Homo sapiens: one gene and its partner. The protein of the gene in region 2 purifies or fractionates together with the protein of the main gene of each other region. This does not show direct contact. Each region holds a gene or a part of one and is shown on either strand. Other genes may lie near its edges.

Evidence for each region.
Region 1: the proteins of GPR119 (region 2) and CMIP purify together in Homo sapiens (affinity purification with mass spectrometry; one large-scale study listed by BioGRID and IntAct). This does not show direct contact.

The regions. Positions count from the first base shown.
Region 1 is NC_000016.10:81,671,523-81,675,336, reverse strand, and holds part of CMIP (C-Maf-inducing protein), read right to left. Parts: intron 3,372-3,814; coding exon 3,267-3,371; intron 1-3,266. UniProt on the Homo sapiens protein: Plays a role in T-cell signaling pathway. Isoform 2 may play a role in T-helper 2 (Th2) signaling pathway and seems to represent the first proximal signaling protein that links T-cell receptor-mediated signal to the activation of c-Maf Th2 specific factor.
Region 2 is NC_000023.11:130,383,335-130,387,248, forward strand, and holds the start of GPR119 (glucose-dependent insulinotropic receptor), read right to left. Parts: upstream 2,341-3,914; 5' UTR 2,114-2,340; coding exon 1,106-2,113; 3' UTR 1,102-1,105; intron 1-1,101. UniProt on the Homo sapiens protein: Receptor for the endogenous fatty-acid ethanolamide oleoylethanolamide (OEA) and lysophosphatidylcholine (LPC). Functions as a glucose-dependent insulinotropic receptor. The activity of this receptor is mediated by G proteins which activate adenylate cyclase.

The DNA of each region.
Region 1 (3,814 bases), on a different chromosome or scaffold from region 2:
AGCTACTTGGGTGGCTGAGGCATGAGAATTGCTTGAAGACAGGAGGCAGAGGTTGCAGTGAGCAGAGATTGCGCCACCGCACTCCAGCTTGGGTGACAGAGTGAGACTGTTTCCAAAAAAACCCAAAAACCAAAAACAAAAACACTGTGACGAATGGCACCTTCACCCATCACTGCCAGGCCTTTCCATGTGGTTCTCTCCCTGGGTCACCCTCTTCCTGCTTCTTGCCTGGAGAACAGCCAGGAGGTATTAACGTAAATATCACCTCCCCAACGCTCCTTCCAAAAACAGATGCCAGGGCCATCCTAATTAAATCAGAATGGCACTGGGAGGGTCCTGGGCACCCTTTTCTTTCTTTCTTTCTTTCTTTCTTTTTTTAAATTGACATATAACCCAAAGTACGCTGGTAAATGTCTAACAACCAACTCTCCAAAGAAAGAAGCCCTGATCTGGCTGGATGTGGTGGCTCACGCCTGTAATCCCAGTACTTTGGGAAGCCGAGGCGGGCAGATCACCTGAGGTCAGGAGTTCGAGACCAGCCTGGCCAACAAAGTAAAACCCCATCTCTACTAAAAATACAAAGATTAGCCAGGTGTGGTGGCCCACACCTATAATCTCAGCTACTCAGGAAGCTGAGGCAGGAGAATCGCTTGAACCCAGGAGGTGGAGGCTGTAGTGAGCCAAGATTGTGCCACTGCACTCCAGCCTGGGCGACAACAGCTAAGCTGTCTCAAAAAAAAAAGAAGCCCTGATCTGCAGTGTTTACCAATTTCTTTGGTGTAAATACTCACCACAGCTACTTCAAGCTATCAATATGATATCATTACAGAACTGGGAAGGGATGTGTTCCCAAATGTAACGTGTGAGCTGGCTCCTGCACACTCTGGGTATAACTTAAATACTGTAAGCCAGGCGCGGTGGCTCACGCCTGTAATCCCAGCACTTTGGGAGGCCAAGGTGGGTGGATCACGAGGTCAGGAGATCAAGACCATCCTGGCTAACATGGTGAAACCCCATTTCTACTAAAAATACAAAAGGGCAGGCCTGATACTACCCTCTGGCTTCCGTTTTCTCCTCTTTTTGCCTCACCGTGCTGTCAGCTCCAGAACATGCCCTTGGGAATGAGCAGCCTCCCATCTCCACATTCTGGCCCCTGGAGTCCCTGCACTTCCTTCTGATCAGGGAAGTGATTCAAGGTGGGACATGATCCCCTTTGAACATCGGGACCTGAGGCTGAGGGCATTAAAAGAGTCACCCTCTCTCATGCCCTGCTGCAAGAAAACAGCCCCTGATTTATCAAATGCCTTTTCCTGCCCCTCCGAAGAACTCAGCAGTACGGCATTTGTTTGAGAAATCCCCCCTGTACAGGTTTTCAGCGACTCAGAATGCTCTACTGCCTTCATTTTGAGAAAAGACTGAAATACCCTCCTGCTGTATCCCCAGCTCTGGTGGGGTCTGGACTCATGTTGGTCTCCTTGGAGTTGTGTAGTGTACCACCTGAACAACTGGGTGGCTGCAGCAGAGACCACTGTGTTCTGCATGTCACATCCTCTCCAATGACACCAGAGGTCACTGCAGAAAGTTCCCCATAAACTAATGGCATCTGCATTAGTCTGCATCCCGGGAGCAGTTCTCAGCCAGCGAGGGATGGGAGCTGGTGAGTGACTATCCCAGCACCGCCAGCCTCGGCGGAGCAACTCTCAGCAGAGCAACTCTCAGTGTGTTACGCACGGCCTCCTGGGGCACAGTGGGAGTGCATGCCAGCTGCCTGAAGTGGTCACCTGCTTGCTTGCTTTCTTATTTATTTATTTATTTATTTTTGAGAAGGAGTCTCACTCTGTTGCACAGGCTGGAGTGCAGTGGTGTGATCTTGGCTCACTGCAACCTCTGCCTCCCAGGTTCAAGCTATTCTCCCGCCTCAGCCTCCTGAGTAGCTGAGTACAGTCATGTACCACCATGCCCGGCTAATTTTTATATTTTTTTAGTAGAGACGGGGTTTCACTATGTTGGCCAGGCTGGTCTCCAACTCCTAACCTCAAGTGATCTGCCCGCCTTGGCCTTCCAAACTGCTGGGATTACAGGTGTGAGCTACTGCGCCCAGCCTCACCTGCTTATTAATTCATACTTCACTGATGTCCTCCCTTCCCTGTCCCCCAGTGTTTCCTGGGACCACCTTCCTAGGAAGCCACTTCCACCCAAATCCTGGTCTTGGAGTTTCCTTTTGGAGGCTCCAAAGCCAGGTCGTGGCCCTGCCCTGCCACCTCTTCCGGTCACTTGCTACCCCACCACTCGGTTTTATTGCTCTCACGGTTTTTCTTACCCTCTGACATGATCTTGCACATTTACTTGTACATGATCTCTTCCTGGTAGAATGGAAGCCCCAAGAGAGCAGGGAATTTGTGATCTTGCTCGCTCTCCAGCACTGAAATTGTGTCAAGCACACAGCAGGCGCTCAAGAAAAACAGATGCAATGGCTCATGCCTGTAACCTCAGCATTCTGGGAGGTCCAAATGGGAAGACTGCTTAAGCCCAGGAGTTTGAGACTAGCCTGGGTAACACAGCAAGATCCTGTCTTTACAAAAAAATTTTAAATATTAGCCATGAGTGGTGGCATGTGCCTGTGGTCCTAGCTACTCGGGAGGCTGAGGTGGGAGGACGGCTTGAGCCCAGGAGTTTGAGGCTGCAGTGAGCTATGACTGCACCACTGTATTGCCGCACAACCTAAGTGACAGGGTGAGACCCTGTCTCAAAAAAATAAAATAAAACCATGCAAATCATGGGCAAAAGCCTGTGTTCTCAAAGCCAAGACTAGACAGGATAAACCTTACTGTCAACCCTTGTCCCCAACACACGGGCACATATTCACACCTCCATGTGCACACACGTACACACAGTCACATGTATGTGTACAGTGCACACATGCATTTGCATACCCATGTGCACACATTCACACACACACACCAGTGTGTCATACCTCTCCAGTGGTGAGAAATCTTCAGCATAAAACATCTGTCCCTAAAGCCAAGCAGCTCTAACAGCCTTGCAGTTGCGGTGCTGATTCAGTGCTTGCTTTTTCAGCAGCATCCCTGGCTTCTGGGCCCATGAATCAATGTGCCCAGGGGAACTGGCAAACACACCATGAGGTCTGCCCAGTAAACAGCCACTCCACCTCTCTGGCCTGGTCAGTTCTTGGTGACTTTGCCCATGATGGGGGTGGCAGTTTGCCCCTCCCAAGCCCTCTGGGTGGCGGTGGTTCAGCAACTGACCTGTTGATGAACTCTTCATAGCAGGAGTAGATGGCAGCCAGGCACACGGCCACCAGGTTGGGCAGGACCCGGGGGTGGGGGCAGTGCCCTGTGGGGCCGTGCATGCTGGAAAAAAGCAGAGGGCTGGGGTGAGAAGCCTGCAGGAGTGGGGCCCATGGACAGGGTAAGGGGGGAAAGGGAGGGCGTTGCTCAGGCACGGGGCTGCCCGCTCTGCCAGCGCCACTTGGGGGGCTCTGAGAGCCTTCACTGTGCAATTGGTGGCACCAGGATTTGGGCCCCGGCTGTGCCACGTGCAGGCAGCAGAAGGCAAAGCTCCTGGCTGTGGACTCCGGATCCAGGGTTCCCGGGTTCAAACCCCTGAGTGGCCTTGGAAACCTCCTAAACTCTCCACCCTGTTTCTGCAGCGATAAAATGAGGATAGCAGCCCCCTCCTCAGTTGGGGTACAGTTAGGACCAAATTTTCTAATTCACAGAGAGACCTAGCAAATGGTGGCCATACGTCCTGGGACAGTCATGCTCACACCTGGTGGTTCAGGAATAATTAATTA
Region 2 (3,914 bases):
TCTTAGGAAAATGCAAAATTGGGAGTAAGTGGAAGGAGCCCTGAGGAGCAAAGTGGCTCCAGTCTGGAGAGCTTGGCTGTGCCTGCCTTGGTACCCACATGTTTTCTCTCTCTTCCCTCCCAGTGCCTCAGAATTTGTGATCCAGCATTGTCATCAGCAAGTAGCCACAAGTGACATATGAGGCCATCTTAAGGGAAGGGGCAGCAGAGAGTTAAAAGGTGGTGGATTGGGACCGGTAACAGCAGAAATAATCACAAGATAGTGTTTCTTTGGGAAATAACCTATTTTAAACATCATGAGGTGTGCGAAAAGACAAGCTTTAGAGGAATTGAGGTTTCTACCTTTTAGGCACATTCACCATATAAGATCTCTGATTAATATCAGTAAGGGCAGGAGGAGGAGGGACTCCTCACCTTGCCAAAGCAATTACTGTAGTAAGTCACTATAGTAAACACTTAAAAATAACAGAACCTCATTTCTCTAGTGTTGTTCAGTATGGGAGCCACTAGCCACATGTGGCTACTGAGCATTTGAAATATGGCTAGTTTAAATTGAGATGTTTTGTAAGGGCAAAATACACACCAGATCTCAAGGACTTAGTATGAAAAAAAAACCAGTATAATTTTTATATTGATGACATGTTGAAAACAATATATTGGTTACGTTGGGATAAATAAAATATTAGTTTTGCCTGTTTCTTTTTACCTTTATAAAACGGTTACTGGAACATGTAAAATTATGCGTGTGGCTCACATTATATTTCTGTTGGACAGTGCTGCTCTGGTATACTCAAAAATAGAATTTGATCTATAAGCATCTTTTTAGCAGTACATTTCTTGCTTTAAGTAAGTGTACCTGTACACCAGAGACAGGCTCATTTCAAAAGAAGGACAGGGAGGAGTGGCGATTTGAAAATGGGGAAACTGATTATAGAAGAAAGTCAGGACTCTGCCTCAGTTACCTGTCAGTCTGGGGGTGGGGGATGCTGGGACAGGGGTCAATTGCCTGAAGCAAGTGCTCTCATCCCCCTAGCTCCTGCTGATCTAGTTGGGGCTCCAGAGTGGGGAGGAGAAAGGCACTTTGAAACTTCTCTGCCCTTACCGTCTTAGCCATCAAACTCTGAGCTGGAGATAGTGACGATGTGACAGGAACTTTCCCTGGGCCTCTCTGGGCCACAATTCCTGGCCGAGAGAAAGAGGAGGAATGAGGTGAGCACCTTCTTCACTCCTAGGGCCATGTGGTAGAGCTGCAGTCGCACCTCCTTCTGCCAATAGGCATAGATGAGTGGGTTGAGCAGGGAGTTGCCCACGCCGAGCAGCCACAGGTACCGTTCCAGCACTAGGTAGAGGTGACACTCCTGGCAGGCCACCTGCACAATGCCAGTGATAAGGAAGGGGGTCCAGGATAGAGCAAAGCTCCCAATGAGAACAGACACAGTACGGAGAGCTTTGAAGTCGCTGGGAGTCCGTGGGGATCGATAACCTCCAGCCATGGCTCCTGCATGTTCCATCTTTCGAATCTGCTGGCTGTGCATGGAGGCAATCTTGAGCATGTCGCAGTAGAAGAAGACAAAGAGGAGCATGGCTGGGAAGAAGCCAACGCAGGAGAGGGTCAGCACGAAGTGAGGGTGAAATACAGCAAAGAAGCTGCACTGCCCTTTGTAGGCAGTCTGCTGGAACATGGGGATTCCGAGTGGGAGGAAGCCAATGAGGTAAGACACTAACCACAGCCCGGCAATGCAGGCCCCGGCCACGAACCCACTCATGATCTTCAAGTAGCGGAAGGGCTGCTTGATGGCAAGGTACCTGTCAAAGGTGATCAGCATGACCGTGAGGACAGAGGCAGCTGCGGAGGAAGTGACAAATGCCATCCGCAGGCTGCACAGGGTCTTCTGTGTGGGCCGAGAAGGGCTGGAGAGCTGGTCTGTGAGTAGGCCAGAGATGGCCACACCAATCAAGGTGTCAGCCACAGCCAGATTCAAGGTGAAGCAGAGACTGACACCATCATTCTTGTGGATCAACAGCAGCACAGCCACAGCCACTAGTGTGTTAGTAGCAATGATGAGGGAGGCCAGGACAGCAAGGATCACTCCAAATGAGAAAGATGATTCCATGTCTCGAAGTGGCAGGACTTCACTTACCAGGGCATGCTATCTCTCCAGCTGAAATTCTCATGGGCCAGGGGCAGAGGAGCTGTGGGTTCAGAGCTACAGCACGATTCTGGCCTTCGCTGGCAGTCCAGGCTGGCAGGTCGCCATCTTTGGGATCCTACAGGTCATGAAGAATTACTCACCCTCTCTTTTCAGTCCTCAGCCTCCTGCCTCTCCAGCTCTCTAAAGGCAGCAACTTCAGTATAGACCTCCCCCTGGGCCCTGAGCTAGTCCCTCCCCCTCCAACCAGCAAGTTACTAGACAACTCCCAAGTACCTGTACATGCTGTCTCGCCAGGCCCTCTCCCTTCACTGGTGCTTCAGGGACTCTGGAGGGACAGGGACATTCATCAGGTCTCCTGTCTGTCAAAAGATATAATTGACTCCAATCATACTTTTTTCTTCCTCCATACCTTGACATTAAATTTCTACTTTTCTTCCAAAACCTCGAGTACCAGCTTAAATAATTAATCTCAGCTTAATTAAGCTTTTTCTTACTAATTCTCAATTACTATTATGAATTGCTTTTAATCAAGCAAGATGCTCATAATCAGTTGAAGTGGGAAGTGAGGGAAGGTGAGCTTTTTGAGGGGCCCCAGCATATTTTCAGGAGTGCTACCACACATTTAAGCTGTTTCTTACCTTTTGCTTCCTAGCGCCTCAAATTCTAATTCTCTCAAGTAGGGCGTGCTGTTCCCCCGTTTCTCATCCCTAGGATCTCAGTTGAGGATTCAGGACAGGAAAAACAGGGCCAAAAACTGTTAACAGCTGTCATTCAGTTTAGAACCCATTCTCCACCTCACGCTGCTGTCTCTCAAGTATACTAATTGATAATTATTTCTGCAGCATGTTGGGCCAGGTCTGGTCAGTGAGTAGTGGCTGCTGGGCTTGCCTTTCTTAATCCTATAGACCTGAGGTATCTCTGCGGGAGGAGAAGAGGAGATGAGCTGCATTCTGGGAAGTGTCTGCTTGATGTTTGGCTATGGAATTTTCCATTTTCCAGGAATAGGAACGTGGGGGCGGTTGAGGGGGGGAGGTTAGACCAAAGGGCAACTGTGTTGCTGAAGCAGGTGAGATGCACTCTGGAGGGGCAGCTGCATAAGTCACTCCTGTTTTAGGATGTGTATCCATTTGCTTGGGTACATTAGAACTACCCTTTCGCCTGCCACTCTCATCTTGGATACCAAGAAGAGAGGGGTGGGGAGAAGAGTGGTTAGAAGCTTATTTACTCAGTTCAGGTGAGAGCACAAATGGGAAAGGTTAGTGTTTGAAGTGAGGGAATAGAGAGCAAGGTGCAGAGTTGGACGCAAATATATTCCAGGATGTTTTGACAGTCTGAGAGGGCCTTTGGCAGATGTCTCTCCTAAAAAAGGATCAGAAAGACTGTGTTGTGGGGATTCAGTATTCTAGTTGCCATCCTGAAAACAGTTCTTATTCTTTGGTATGTCCATTAGGAGATTGATTCCAGTTGCTTAGAACCTAGCCTAATTTTATACCTGGACCTAAGGTGTGCTTGGGTTTCCCCAGCTCTTGACTCCACGGAGTCAAGTTAGCCCTTTTCAAACCCATGTTCAAACTTGAGAGTGTATCAGAATCACCTGGAGGGTGTCTTAAAACCCAGGTTCTTGGGTCCTACTCCCAGAGTTTCAGGTCATTGGTGAGTCTGAGAATCTGCATTTCTTTCTTTCTTTTCTTTTTTATTTTTATTTTTATTTTTTTTTTTTTTTGAGAAGGAGTTTCGCTCTTGTCGCCCAGGCTGGAGTGCA